Linked DNA regions of Homo sapiens. The protein of the gene in region 1 interacts with the protein of each later gene in a pairwise test. Each region holds a gene or a part of one and is shown on either strand. Other genes may lie near its edges. The genes, in order: VMP1 and FGF13.

Region 1 (7,284 bases):
CACAGGTAAATTTTGATGGTTTGCAGGGAGGAGTGCTATGGGTTTAAATGATATACTTTTCATTGGAATAAAATAGAGATATATTACTTCTTTTATTTTTAATCTTATATTATCTTCTTAGTAAATTAAATTATGGGTCAGTCAGGGCCTGTAAGGTGATATTTCACAGTGATGGCAGAAGGAGCCTGGCCACAATCACATAAACAGTGTTCCAAGTACAAGATTATTACTTGTTAATCTTATAGTATGGTCAGTGTTTATTTGGCTTTGCTCAGTGCTCAATTTTATTGTGCTATTTTGTAATTCTAGAAGTAGATTATAAACTTACTACACTGTTCTTAAATATACAGTTATCAAAAAAGTTAGAATGTGAATATTATTTAAAAATTTATTTTAAAATTATCGTTTGAGATGAATAAACTCATATTTTAACCAAATTGGAATTTGTGGTAAATTTCAGTGTATTTGACTCCTGTTTATACAGTTACCCTGAAAATGATGACTTTTATTAATATGGATGATTTAAGTAGAAACTTTCCTTCATGCATTTAAAGGAAAATGAAAAAAAAGTTTTACTTTTGTTGTAATCATACTTTTTTTTTAGCTTTTGAATTGTTTGACATCTCAAACACATGGCAAATAATACTCTAGTGTGGTAATATTTTCACAGCAATCCTCTACTTTTAGAGGAAGTGCAAGGAATCTGAAATAGTAGTTTTCATTTGTTTGTTTGTTTGTTTGCTTTTTGAGACGGAATCTCACTCTGTCACCAGGCTGGAGTGCAATGGTGCGATCTTGGCTCACTGCAACCTCCGCCTCCCAGGTTCAAGCAATTCTGCCTCAGCCTCCCGAGTAGCTGGAATTAAAGGCATGCGCCACCACGCCCAGCCAATTTTTGTATTTTTAGTAGAGATGGGATTTCACCATGTTGGCCAGGGTGGTCTTGAACTCCTGACCTCGGGTGATCCACCCACCTTGGCCTCCCAAAGTGCTGGGATTACAGGCATGAGCCACCGCGCCCGGCCTCATTTGTTTGTTAATCACCATATTGCCTTGCAGAGGACATTTTGCAGCACTGATCTGACTTTTGGGTTACTTTGGTTGTCAGTAAACTTGGCAATTTCACCAAGAGTTTCAGGATTCAGAGATGGGCATTGCATACATCATAGTGTCTTCCCATTAGGAGCTTTTGTGTGCTATTTTTTTCTTTCCTTTTAGAGAGCACATACATTTGTATATTCTTCCTCTTCTGCTCACCCCATTGGAATTTAAAATTAACATTAGCATGTCAAACTTACTCTTCTGTACCAGGTGTTTTTTAATATTTTAGAGATTATGCTATAACTGTACATGAAAAACTGATTCTTAGGCTGGGCGTGGTGATTCACGCCTGTAATCCCAACACTTTGGGAGGCCAAGGCGGAAGGATCTCTTGAGCCCAGGAGTTTGAGACCAGCCAGGACAACACAGGGAAACCTCATCTCTGCAAAAGATTTTAAAAATTTGCTGGATGTGATCGTATGCGCCTGTAGTTCTAGCTAGCTACTCAAGTTCTAGCTAGCTACTGGAAAGACTGAGGTGAGAGTATCGATTTAGCCCACAAGGCTGCAGTGAGCTGCGATCACACCACTGCACTCCAGCCTGGGTGACAGAGCAAGACCCTGTCCCCCAAAAAAAAAAATTTATTCTTTATTATGGCTGCTTAGTTTTTCTTTCCATTGTACGAGTGTGCTGTACTTTAATCACTCTTCTGTCCTCTATTGGTAATATATAAGTTATTGATTATTTTTTGCTAGTACAAATAATGCTGTGGTCAATAAAGTTGTGCAAGTCATTTCACCTTATACCTAATCATTCCTAGAAATGGAATTACCGGTTTACAGTGTATATGCATTTTGTGCTGGGCGTGGTGGCTCACATCTGTAATCCCAGCACTTTGGGAGGCGGAGGTGCGTGGATCACTTGAGGTCAGGAGTTTGAAACCAGCCTGGCCAACATGATGAAACCTCATCTCTACTAAAAATACAAAAAAAAACTAGCCGGGCGTGGTGGCAGATGCCTGTGATCCCAGCTACTCGGGAAGCTCAGGCAGGAGAACCGCTTTAACCAGGGAGGTGGAGGTTGCAGTGAGCCAAAATCATGCTACCACTGCACCCCAGCCTGGGCAACAGAATGAGACCCTGTCTCAAAAAAAACAAAAACAAAAGCATTTTGTAATTTCAATAGATGGTGACAATTAATAGCTAAACTTAATTGGGCACTTACTAAGTGTTAAACTCTTCTGAGAACTTTACATATATGAGCTCATTTAATCCTTAAAATGACCCTGAAAAGTATGTACTATTGTGATCCCCATTTTACAGAAGAGAAAACTGAGTCACAAAAGTATTAACTAACTTGCCCAAGATCACGTGACTAATAGAAGGCAGAGCCAGGATTGGAACCAACTAGTTTGCCTCACCATTTTTGCGATCTAAACCACTTTGTTCTGTAATATGATCCTAGGTTGATAGAATGCCCTTCATAGAAGGTGGACCAATTTAGACTTATTTCAGTAATTTTCCCAAAATCTATAGCTCTATCCCAAATTCAACTGCTGGAATTTTCAGTACCATTTCTTTAGGACATCCTCTACAAAAGATTCTGATGTTTATCAAGGCAGGGAGTTGGTTTTGCCTCAGTTGTTCTCTAGGTAACACTGATTAAGAAATGGCAACTATAATATAGTAGCCCCCTTATCCATGAGGGATACATTCCATGACCCCTAGTGGATATAGGAAAAAACACTGTGTTGTTCTGTATATAGTAATGGGGTAACATATACAACGCGGATGTACTAAACAAAGGGATGAATCAGGTCTTAGGCTGGATGGAGCAGGACTGGCAAGATTTTATTATACTACTCAGAACAGCATACAATATAAAACTTAGGGGCTTGGCTGCAGTAGCTCACACCTGTAATTCCAGCACTTTGGGAGGCCAAGGCGAGCTGATCACTTGAGGTCAGGAGTTTCAGATGAGCCCAGGCAACGTAGTGAGACTGTGTCTCCACAAAAACCAAAAATATTAGTTGGGTGCGGTGGTACACACCTGTAGTCCTAGCTGCTTGGGAGGCTGAGGTGGGAGGATCACTTGACCCCAAGAGTTGGAGTTTAAAGTGAGCTGTGATTATGCCACTGCATTCCAGCTTGGGCAACGGAATGGAGACCCTGTCTCTTAAAAAAATAAAAATAAATTTAAAACAATAAAACTTATGAATTGCTTATTTTCAGAATTTTCCATTTATTATTTTCAGACCATAGTTGACCATGTGTTACTGAAACTGTAGATAAGGGGGAACTACTGTCATTCATCTTCTTTCTATGCTGAGTTGGGACTGGTTGCCTTTTTTTTTTTTTTTTTTTTTTTGAGACAGAGTCTCTTTCATTCTGTTATCCAGGCTGGTCTTCAGTGGCACAATCTCAGTTCACTGCAACCTCTGCCTCCCAGGTTCAAGGGATTCTTGTGCTTCAGCCTCCCGAGTAGCTGGGATTACAGGCGTGTACCACCATGCCCAGCTAATTTTTGTATTATTAGTAGAGACGGAGTTCCACCATGTTGGCCAGGCTGGTCTTGAACTACTGACCTCAAGTGATCTGCCCTCCTCAGCCTCCCAAAGTGCTGAGATTATAGGTACTACTAGTTGCCATTTTTCACAAGACTCTAGGACTTGCTATTAGTTGTTATTTGGGAGATAAAACTCTTTTCATCTAAAGTGATTGAAGAGAATAAGCATAAATGTTAGAAATTCTGTTTTAATCTCTGCACTATTGTTTTTCAGACCCCTCTTCAGTGAATGAAAAGAAGAGGAGGGAGCGGGAAGAAAGGCAGAATATTGTCCTGTGGAGACAGCCGCTCATTACCTTGCAGTATTTTTCTCTGGAAATCCTTGTAATCTTGAAGGAATGGACCTCAAAGTAAAGAGTCTTCTCCCACTACCTTTTACATACACCTCATTTACTCATTTAAAAAATCCTCAGTAATCTCTTACTTTCTGCCCTCTACTCCATCAAAATGGATTAATTACCTTTAGAATATTACCATAGGAACATATTTATTCTCCTTTCTTTAGGTTGAAGAAAAATAGATTAGGGAAAGACATTGCTATTTGCTGTTTGCTTACTGGATTATCACAGTTGTCCACTGTTTTTTCATGTTGAATCTGCAGTGGAGAACACTGAAAAATACGATTTTTATTTTCTCTCCTGATTTTACCATTGGGAGAAATCAGGTCTGTGTAATTTAGATACACTGATTCTTTAGCAGGGCAAGGTTCAGCATATGTGGCAGTTTTACTGATAGTTTGAGCCAATGAAAAAGAACTCTGCCATGGAAATGTGTTGTCTTTAAATTTAGTACTTGTAAGCCCTGTTTCAAGTACCATAAAGAACAAGTTGAACTTTTACATGCCTTATCTTCTGGCATGCCCTTCCAAGTTATTCTCTGTACTATTATCTTAACATTTTTATTGTACTAAGAGTTTATAAAGTATTTTGTAACATTTTCAGCTGATTTTGATCCTTAGGGCAACTCCATAAAGAAGGTAAAACAAGTACATTATTATAAACATTTTAGGCCAGGCGTGGTGGCTCACACCTATAATCCCAGCACTTTGGGAGGTGGGTGGATCATCTGAGGTCAGGAATTCGAGACCTGGCCAACATGGTGAAACCCCGTCTCTACTAAAAATATAAAAATTAGCCGGGCGTGGTGGCATGTGCCTGTAGTCCCAGCTACTCAGGAGGCTGAGGCAGGAGAATCGCTTGAACGTGGGAGGCAGAGGTTGCAGTGAACCGAGATCATGCCACTGCACTCCAGCCTGGGCAACAGAACGATACTCTGTCTCAAAAAAAAAAAAAATTAGCCGGTCGTGGTAGTGCATGCCTGTAATCCCAGCTACTCAGGAAAATCACTTGAACCCAGGAGGTGGAATTTTAGGCCATTTGGGAGGCTGAGGTGGGTGGATCACCTGAGGTCAGGAATTCGAGACCACCCTGGCCAACATGGTGAAACCCCATCTCTACTAAAAATACAAAAATTAGCCGGGCATGGTGGCGTGCGCCTGTAGTCCTAGCAACTTGGGAGGCTGAGGCAGGAGAATAGCTTGAACCCAGGAGGTGGAAGTTGCAGTGAGCCAAGATCATGCCACTGCACTCCAGCCTGGGTGACAGAGCAAGACCCTGTCTCTGAAAAAAAGAAACAAAGCCCGGGCATGGTGGCTCACGGCTGTAATCCCAGCACTTTGAGGGGCCGAGGCAGGCAGATCACTAAGACAGGAGTTCAAGACCAGCCCGGCCAACATAGTGAAACCCCGTCTCTACTAAAAATACAAAAATTAGCCGGGCATGGTGGCACACACCTATAGTCCTAGCAACTTGGGAGGCTGAGGCAGGAGAATAGCTTGAACCCGGGAGGTGGAGCTTGCAGTGAGCTGAGGTCGCACCACTGCACTCCAGCAACAGAGTAAGACTCCATCTCAAAAAAAAATAAAAATAAGTAAATAAAGATTATAAAAACAAGAAACAGAATCAGGTTGGTTAAGTGTCTGGCTGAAAGTGCAACATGAAGGGTCTCTGACCCAGGTCCTCTGACTTGAAGGCCAGTGCTCTTTCTATTATACTATAATGCTTCTCCATATTATAAGTTGAGGTTTAATAAGATCAGGCTTTGGGTAAGGAAAAGGCTACAGTGGGGGTTATGATAAGAACTTGGGTTCTCTGCCTATGTATCTTCCCTTGACCCCCTTCTGTTACTCCAAGAGGCCATGATGTGTAAGGAAAAGAGCTCAGCCCAGCTGAGCTAGGTAACCTAACTGTTTCAGCAAGAAATTGTTCTGAGAATGATGAATGCTGAAAGTGAGACTGTGAGATATTTATTTTTTTTATTTGTTTTTAAGATTATGGCATCGTCAAAGCATTGTGGTGTCTTTTTTACTGCTGCTTGCTGTGCTTATAGCTACGTATTATGTTGAAGGAGTGCATCAACAGGTGAGAGGTCGAGCAATTCTGTTTCTAGTCTTGCACATTCTCTAATTCTCTAATCTCAGTTTCAAATGGGATGAATGTGGGTTTTATAGAATTTCTACCCTCAACATTATCTCATAACTAGTATCTCAAATGTTTTACTTTTAAAGGCATACACTAAAAATATTCTTGTGATGTTTTATGGCTGCTGAGGATTTATATGTGGTGTGTGTGATTCCTTTTACCTTCAAAGATTTTTTTTTTTTTAAAGACAGAGTCTCGCTCTGTCACCCAGGTTGGAGCGCAGTGGTGTGATCTGAGCTCACTGCAACCTCTGCCTCCTGGGTTCAAGCAATTCTCCTGCTGTAGCCTCCCAAGTAGCTGGGATTACAGGCACCTGCCACCACACCCAGCTAATTTTTTTTGTATTTTTGTAGAGATGGGGTTTTGCCATGTTGGCCAGGCTGGTCTCAAACTCCTGACCTCAGGTGATCTGGCTGCCTTGGCCTCCAAAAATGCTGGGATTACAGGCCACTCTGCCTGTAATCAAAGATTTAAATGTAACTTTCCTGAAGGTTTTCCGTCACAGCAGCATGAATCCGTTAATCACTGCCAAAGTTTTCTTATTTTCTCTAACATACTTTTGTGACCCATCCAAATAGGTAGGCCTCTCATCCAAGGTTGATGATTACGTTTTATTTGTATAAAAAGACAGGTTCATTTGCCTGTAGTCTACATGTACAACATTACTGATGGGAAAATAGGATGCTTTGTTAACCTCTTTTGTTAAAATAGCAAAACATTAATGTATTTTAACAGGAAATGGTTCTAGAATGGTATTTTAAAGCAGTTTACTGCCAATCACAGAAATGACTCTAGAATGGTATTTTAAAACAGTTTACTGCCAATCACTGAAATGACTCTAGAATGGTATTTTAAAACAGTTTACTGCTAATCACAGAGAAGTTTTTACAGTTCTAAATGCATTTATTTTAAATATATCTAAAATTATCCTCAAAATTATCTTATTCATAATTTGCTTTTTCCTGTGTCCTGTAAATAGTAGGACTTTAAAAGTTTAGAAACAAGGCTTTTATTAAAGGTTTAGAAATAAGACCTTTATTCCAGTTAGATTAATTTTTTTGTCATCTTTGCCATTGTGTATTAAAGAAATTAGGCCTCTTCAATGGGTTTTTAATCTTATTAGTTTTTTCCTATTTGAAACTTACTTTAGTTGATTTAATTTTGATGATGGTTTATAAATACCGCATTTCTGTATAGA
Region 2 (7,284 bases), on another chromosome or scaffold:
ACCTTATCTGCATTATACAATGTTTACTTCCAGTTGCTACTTCAGTTACTGGCACATAATGGACGCTCAATAAATACATGTTGGAAGATTATTCTTTGAATGAATATAAAGAGTTTATTCGGTGCGTATTTGGGTATACAACAACAAATATTAAACAACTTTTTTAAACTTTTTGTGCACAGGACAGAAAACTGCCTGTACATGCTATGTCCACTTTTGGAACACAGATTTTTAACAATTATGAATGCACAAAATCTTACATATCATGCAACTCTATGCCAAGAACCCAACTTTCTTCCATGCAACAGATATGAAGATCTAAATGGAAACCTAGCTAAGTCTTAAACACTTTTCCAGTAGCAAGTATAATATATGTTGTTGAGGGAAAACCAGTCTTAACAATTCCTTGTACACAATATTCATGTGCCAAATACAATGACAGGAAGACTCATACATATACAGATAAGACATTTCTTATTTTAACAACACAAAAGACAACATCACAGTTCCACAGTTCCTGTCTTTACACAAGAAGCCACAACAATAGTTTAACATGATACACAAATGGAATTAAGAGAAATCTACACTTGAGGATAATTTTTTGAAGTTCTCTTTACTGACTGGGGTTGACAATACAACTCAATTTCTACGCACAAAGTACAGCACAATAACTTGACCAGAATACCACAAATCTAAAAAAAAAAAAAAAGAAAGAAAAACAATTGGTCAAACCACAAGAACACTGTTACCTTGAGCCTGAGAAGCCAATTCAGATTCAACCCTGAATTTGGTTGATTTGGATTAAGTGACGCAAAAAGTCAATAGAACCATTGAATTTCAGAAATCATAAAGTTGCACTATGCCAAAGAAAAGAGTACATGTGAATCAAGCGTAGATAGAAAACATCAAGCCAAGAAAACAACACAATTCACATAATTTTGTTTGCCCCGACAAAACATTTAAGCAGTTAATTTTGTTTTGTTTTGTTTTGTTTGTTTTTGAAGAACAATTGTGGTCTTTTACATTTTCTTGGTGGGAGAGCAAATTTTGATCAGCATTAGTGCTGTGAAATACTTTTGGATTATCATCCCCAAAGTATAGGTGAGATCATGAGAAAATTTGGCAGTCCTTCTCTCAGATTTAGTTCACTAAAATGCTTGGCATTCTTATGCACAAGCTCAATCTAAATAATGGGGCTTTAGTATGGATGATAAGAAGGTCTAATGGCAGATAGAATAGTGAACTCTGCCTGTTTGTTTGGTAAATGTCACTGACAAATTTGAACTTTTGGGTGAAGGACTGCTAGAAGAATTCAACAGCACCTGGAGGTAAGGTTCTGTTACAGAGCCCTTCTTTTGCCCTCACTGGCTACGTTGATTCATTGTGGCTCATGGATTTGCCTCCGTTCAGCACGCCAGAGACACTTCTGCTCTTGGTTGGGGTCCCGCTTCCAGATCGGGAGAACTCCGTGAGATCGTGCAGTGATGGCTCCTTGTACATGGCCACTGAAAAGCACACAAAGATGGTGTAAAAGGCCTTCAAATGGGCATACCAATTGTGAAAATTTCTAAGAATAGTTTGTAGGTGTTCTATTCCACACACCTAAATGATAAGTATGTGAGGTAATGCATATGTTAATTAGCTTGATTTAGCTATTCCACAATGTATACATATTTCAAAATACCTTGTTCATAATAAATATATACAATTTTTGTGTCAATTATAAATTAAATTCAGAAAAGGAAAAAGAGAAAAAAAATACATTAAAAAAATGGGCCTACCACACTGGTCCTCAACTTTTCTTTTGGTTACTAGGCTTCTGTGCCTTAAGCCAGACATGAAAAACACTGCTTTCAAGGACTCAGTAGAGAGTGGACAGGTTCAGATTAAGCAAAAATCTAGCCTTGGTGTAGTAGTGTGTAAAGAATTTTAATGCCTAACTTCAACCACATATGGTTATGTAAGAGAGGATTAATAAAAAATGCATTTAATAAACCTCTTAGAAGTTTAAATATGATCTATAGCATACTGTACAAGGCAAATATTAAAATTTAAAATATTTTAAAACACTGATTTCTATCATACTTTAAAATGAAACACTTCAAGAGTCTAAGTATTGGATAATTCTTGGTACAGTAAATGGTAAAATTTATTATTGTGCTATAAATAAACATAATAGCTTATAGTTATGGAACACATAACATTAGATACTACTCTAAGTTCTTTGCATGCATTATCCCATTTAGTCCCTATGAGAATCTTATAAGTACTCTTATCCATATTATACAGATGAACTTGAGGCATACACAGGTAAATAACCTGTTCAAGACCATCCAGTTAGCAAAAAGTGAAGTTGGGCCTTGAATTTAGGTAGTCTGGCTCCAAAAAATGTGCTGTAAAACACAGTGCTGTGCTTATTCGAATTGCACAGTGTCTGCCTCTACTCTAAACCCCTACTCTTACCTCAGGCTAGTAATCTCTTTGAAGTCTTCCTCTGCTTTGCCCGCATTTTCTGTCTCTTCTCTACCATATCTCACTATTTCTTACCTCCCTATCTTCCATAGCCTATTCTTGTCCCTCACCCTTTCTAATTTGCTATTAATCTGCTAATAATGATGGGAAAACTATAAGCAAAATTTGCTGAAATAATATGTTGGGCCCTTAGAGAGGACCCAAGGAGCTTTCTGGTAAGTGTTAAGTGTACACACATTTTTTTTTTCTTTTGTTTTTTGAAACGGAGTCTCACTCTGCCGCCCAGGCTGGAGTCCAGTGGCACGATCTCAGCTCGCTGTAAGCTCCGCCTCCCAGGTTCACGCCATTCTCCGGACCTCGTGATCCGCCCGCCTCGGCCTCCCCAAAGTGCTGGGATTACAGGCGTGAGCCACCGTGCCCGGCTGTGTATACACATTTTTAACACCTATGTTTCTGCCCAGGCAACATTTTAGCATAATTTGGGGATCTTGGCTGTCCTGAGTTAGCATGTAAGTTACTTCCACATAAGTAAAGTGTCACTATATGTACATGCACTATGGAAAAATTAAAATCAGGAGAGCAAATGTTTTTGAGTGTTACAAAATGTAAGTTTTTTAAATAAATGTCTTAATGTGGAACAACTGTTTCATTTTCAAAAGTATTATTAAGGACTGCTTTAAATTACTATTTCTAAATGTTCAACATCACTAATCATCAGGGAAATGCAAATTAAAACCACAATGAGATACCACCTTACTGCTGCAAGAATGGCTATAATTAAAATGTCAAAAAACAACAGATGTTGGCATGGATGTGGTGAAAGGGAACACTTTTACACTGCTGGCGAGAATGTAAATCAGTACAACCACTATGGAAAACAGTATGGAGAATCCTTAAAGAACTAAAAGTAGCATTGGATCCAGCAATCTCACTCCTGGCTAGCTACTGAAAGGAAAATAAGTCATCATATGAAAAACACAACTGCACAGGTATGTTTATAGCAGCGCAATTCACAATGGCCAAAATATGGAACCAACTTAAGTGCCCATCAATCAACGAGTGGATAAAAAAATGTGGTATATATATACACCATGGAATACTACTCAGCCATAAAAAGAAATGATATGATATCTTTTGCAGCAACTTGGATGGAGCTGGACGCCATTATTCGAAGTGAGGTAACTCAGGAATGGAAAGCCAAATATTGTATGTTCTCACTTAAGTGGGAGCTAAGCTATGAAGACATAAAGCATAAGCATGATATAATGGACTTTGGGAACTTGGTTGGGGGGAAGGTTGAGAGTGGGGTGAGGGATAAAACACTACATACTGGGTACAGTGTATACTGCTTGGGTGATGAGTGCACCAAAATTTCAGAAATCACCACTAAATAGCTTGTCTATGTAACCAAAAACCACCTGTACCCCCAAAACTATTGAAATTTAATAAATAAATAAGTATATTTAGTAGCATAATCCATAGTTCCCACAATATCAAATGTACCTTTCAGTGGTTTAGGCAGAAAATGAGCTGCAGGCTTGTTCTTCTTCACATGGTTGCCTTTCATGATCTCTCCTTCTTTGTTCAGACCCAGATACCACCCTCGGCCTGACTGCTGCTGACGGTATATCATTGATGAATATGTCACATAATAATTTTCAAACACTGATTCTTTGAATTTGCACTCAGGTGTGAAAAGTTCCTGCAACAAAAGTAAATAAACAAAAGTTCAGTGTTTATAGCTATGAATTTCCTGTAGAATCATGTGGTATTGCCTTTTAGGAGATTAAGACATACTTTGTAAAAGCTCGTGTGACTGGTGCTCTATTTTAATAGCATAAACTATCATCATTGGAAACCATCAGACTACATATAACATTTCACATGATGCTTTAGAAAAAGTCATAAGTGAAAGTGCTATTGATCAATGATTAGCTCTCTTTGTAATAGGTAATGGGAACATTAGAACAAGCCACATAAGTGAAATATATTGGACAACTACAAGAGCCAAGGATTGAAAAGACAAGCATAAAACTGACACATGGAGCTTTGTTCCCTTCAGGGTTCAATATGAGAAAATAAACATTCGGTCCTTGTACTTAATTTTCATGGATTCTTGAGTTATTATACACTATGGTTGTCAATTGCCTCAGGCTGAAATCTGTGTTACAATGCTTTCTGCCTATATTTCTAAAAGAATGCTACAAAGAAAGCCTACCTTTTACTTTTAGGTAAACCAAATTGATTTTTTTTGGATCATTGGACCTTGACTTGAGACAGAAAGAAAAATTCCCCCCTCACCCCATCCTTGCCTTACAGTAACATTTACATGCAAATCAATACAAAAGCAAGGAATTTACAGCAATTTTACTAGCAGACACGATAGAGCAGCCCAGTGGACTTTGAACTCAGGAATATGGTTTTCTGTCATGCATTTGGCCATTTTTACTTTAGACTGGATTTTTCAAATGAAGGGCTCCTGCCCTCAATAGACCATTTCAAGGAAACAAACAAACAAACAAAAAAACCAACAACAACAAAAAACCTTTTGTGTGTTTGAGTGTACACGTGTCTATGTGTACAATAAACAGCCATTAAAAATGATAATTTCTAAGCTAAATGAAATGAATAGTAGATTTGAATGTATAAGTAATCCATAGAGTAGCAAAGGGCCTACTTGGAGTGGAAGATTATTAGGAAAATGCTAAGTGAGCTACATGTCATAGAGGCACCAATTAAACTATCAGATTTTTGCTAATTTGCTGAGATGTTATCAGGAAAAACACTTGGTACTATCACCAAAAACATGTATACAAACAAATATTGCAAGCTTTCTGGGGCACTAGTCTTTTAAAAACAATGTCTCCATGGTTCTACCTTCCTTTATTTTTCATATTGGATACCATTTTAAGCAATACACACTAGCTGAGCAGCAACATCTGAAGCCCTCTCAGTCACTTCAGCAAAGAGGGATATATTCCTCAGGCAAGGCAGCTTTTCTCTGAAATTTAAGCACTCAAGCAATTTCCTTTCCTTTTTTCTGGGATTCTACAAACAGTGTTTCACACAGTAATCTGCCTAATCTCCCCCCATCTTCCCAATCTGGCTCCCAGAATGCACGAACTGAAGTATCTTTTGGGGTTATTTCAGCCTAGGGGCACACTCGATAGATGTTCAGAGGATTCACACAAATTCAACCTACTCAAGAAGCAATGTACTTCTAAGGCAACTGTCACATGTTAGGAACCAAAATGTTCTATTTATGGGCTGTGAAAACTCCTCTTTGTAGGATTTCTCAACATAGAGAAAGCCAAGAAAGTACCAAGAAATTTGACTAGAAGTCTCCACATTTCCTTTAGTGATGAGGACAAGTACATAGAACGTTGCTGAAATTCTTTGGGAATTAAATCACTGTACGGAAAAAAGTCATCATTGGAGAATGGATTTTCCTTTCATAAAGAATCAAACCATTTTGAAAATATATCTGGTGAAAAATGCATATGATCAAGGCAAATGATACCAAATAGCCACATAAACAATGTATGGCTGACTCCAGAATGGTGAGATGGGATCATTGCATATTCTAAGTCAGGTCCCAAAAATGGGCTGCATTTAATGTCTTGTGTGATAGCAGCATTCATACATTCATTTAATACACATTTTCTAAGGATCCATTATGTAGTTGATCGGTGCTAAATATTCATAGGTAAGTAATATGTGGCTTCAGACAGCTTATCATATATTTGTAGGTATCAAGCATGTACACAAATGTCATAGATACAATGTGTGCTACCATAAGGAAAGAAAGGGAGGCTTACAGGAGGTGCTGTATGAAAACAGAAAAAGCCAGACTTAATTCTGACTGAGGGACTAGGGAGGGATTCACAGAGAGGGTATCATTTTAGCCGAGCTTTTCAATACAGAAAACAGGGAAGAATAATATTTGAAGCACAGGGCCACACTTCCTCTACTTTTCCTGTGTTCCCTGTCTTAGTAACTGGAATCCACCATCCTGGCAGTTGCTCACTTAACACTTCAGAGGGCCTTTCATTTCATTCCTGTGCCCTCTAGTCCGTGATCCATGACCTTCACCTTCCATTCCCAATGCCACTGCTCTACTTTGCGCCTTATTACCTCTTCACTGGACTGCTGTCATAACATCCTAACTGGTTTCTTCTCTTCAGCTGGCAGGTTTGCTTTCCTAAAGCAAAGTTCCCTTCCTTGGGAAATTTTGATGATTTCACCTTGCCTATAGTAAAAACAACAAACAACTTGATGTAACATTTAAAAATTCTCCACAATTCAGTCACTACCATGCCTTCCAGCGTCATCTTCCAGTGTCATTCACCACAGAACCATGTGTGCCTTTGCGCTTTACTGATGCCATTCATTTCCTTTGCTTAGAATGTCATTCCTTTGTTTCTCTACCTACTGGCTTTCCTCTAACCCTCCAAGGCCTAGCTCAAATATGACTGTTTCCAGAATCACATATAATCTCTCCCAATCAGAACTGATTACACCTGTTATCTGTGCTCCCATAAACTCTATCTACATCTCTAGCATGGCCCTGTGACTCATACAACTGTATGATTAGCTCCAGATGGTAGGGAACTTGTCTTATTTTTTCCCCAATCTACCTTCCCCCAACAAAAATGACACGTTAGCACATGGCAGACCGCTTGATTATTGTTTATGTGATTTGAATTTCAGAGATTCAGATTTAAATATTGGAAATTCTAGGACTCAGAATTATCAACTAGTAAAAAGTCTGCAGGGATTTTCCTTAATACCATATCATGAAATCAGCTGTAT

What was found.
Region 2: the proteins of VMP1 (region 1) and FGF13 interact in a two-hybrid assay, tested with the Homo sapiens proteins (one study listed by BioGRID).

Annotation. Positions count from the first base shown.
Region 1 is NC_000017.11:59,731,518-59,738,801, forward strand, and holds part of VMP1 (vacuole membrane protein 1), read left to right. Parts: coding exon 1-5; intron 6-3,820; coding exon 3,821-3,956; intron 3,957-5,935; coding exon 5,936-6,026; intron 6,027-7,284. UniProt on the Homo sapiens protein: Phospholipid scramblase involved in lipid homeostasis and membrane dynamics processes. Has phospholipid scramblase activity toward cholesterol and phosphatidylserine, as well as phosphatidylethanolamine and phosphatidylcholine.
Region 2 is NC_000023.11:138,631,482-138,638,765, forward strand, and holds part of FGF13 (fibroblast growth factor 13), read right to left. Parts: intron 4,175-7,284; coding exon 3,976-4,174; intron 1,506-3,975; coding exon 1,369-1,505; 3' UTR 1-1,368. UniProt on the Homo sapiens protein: Microtubule-binding protein which directly binds tubulin and is involved in both polymerization and stabilization of microtubules.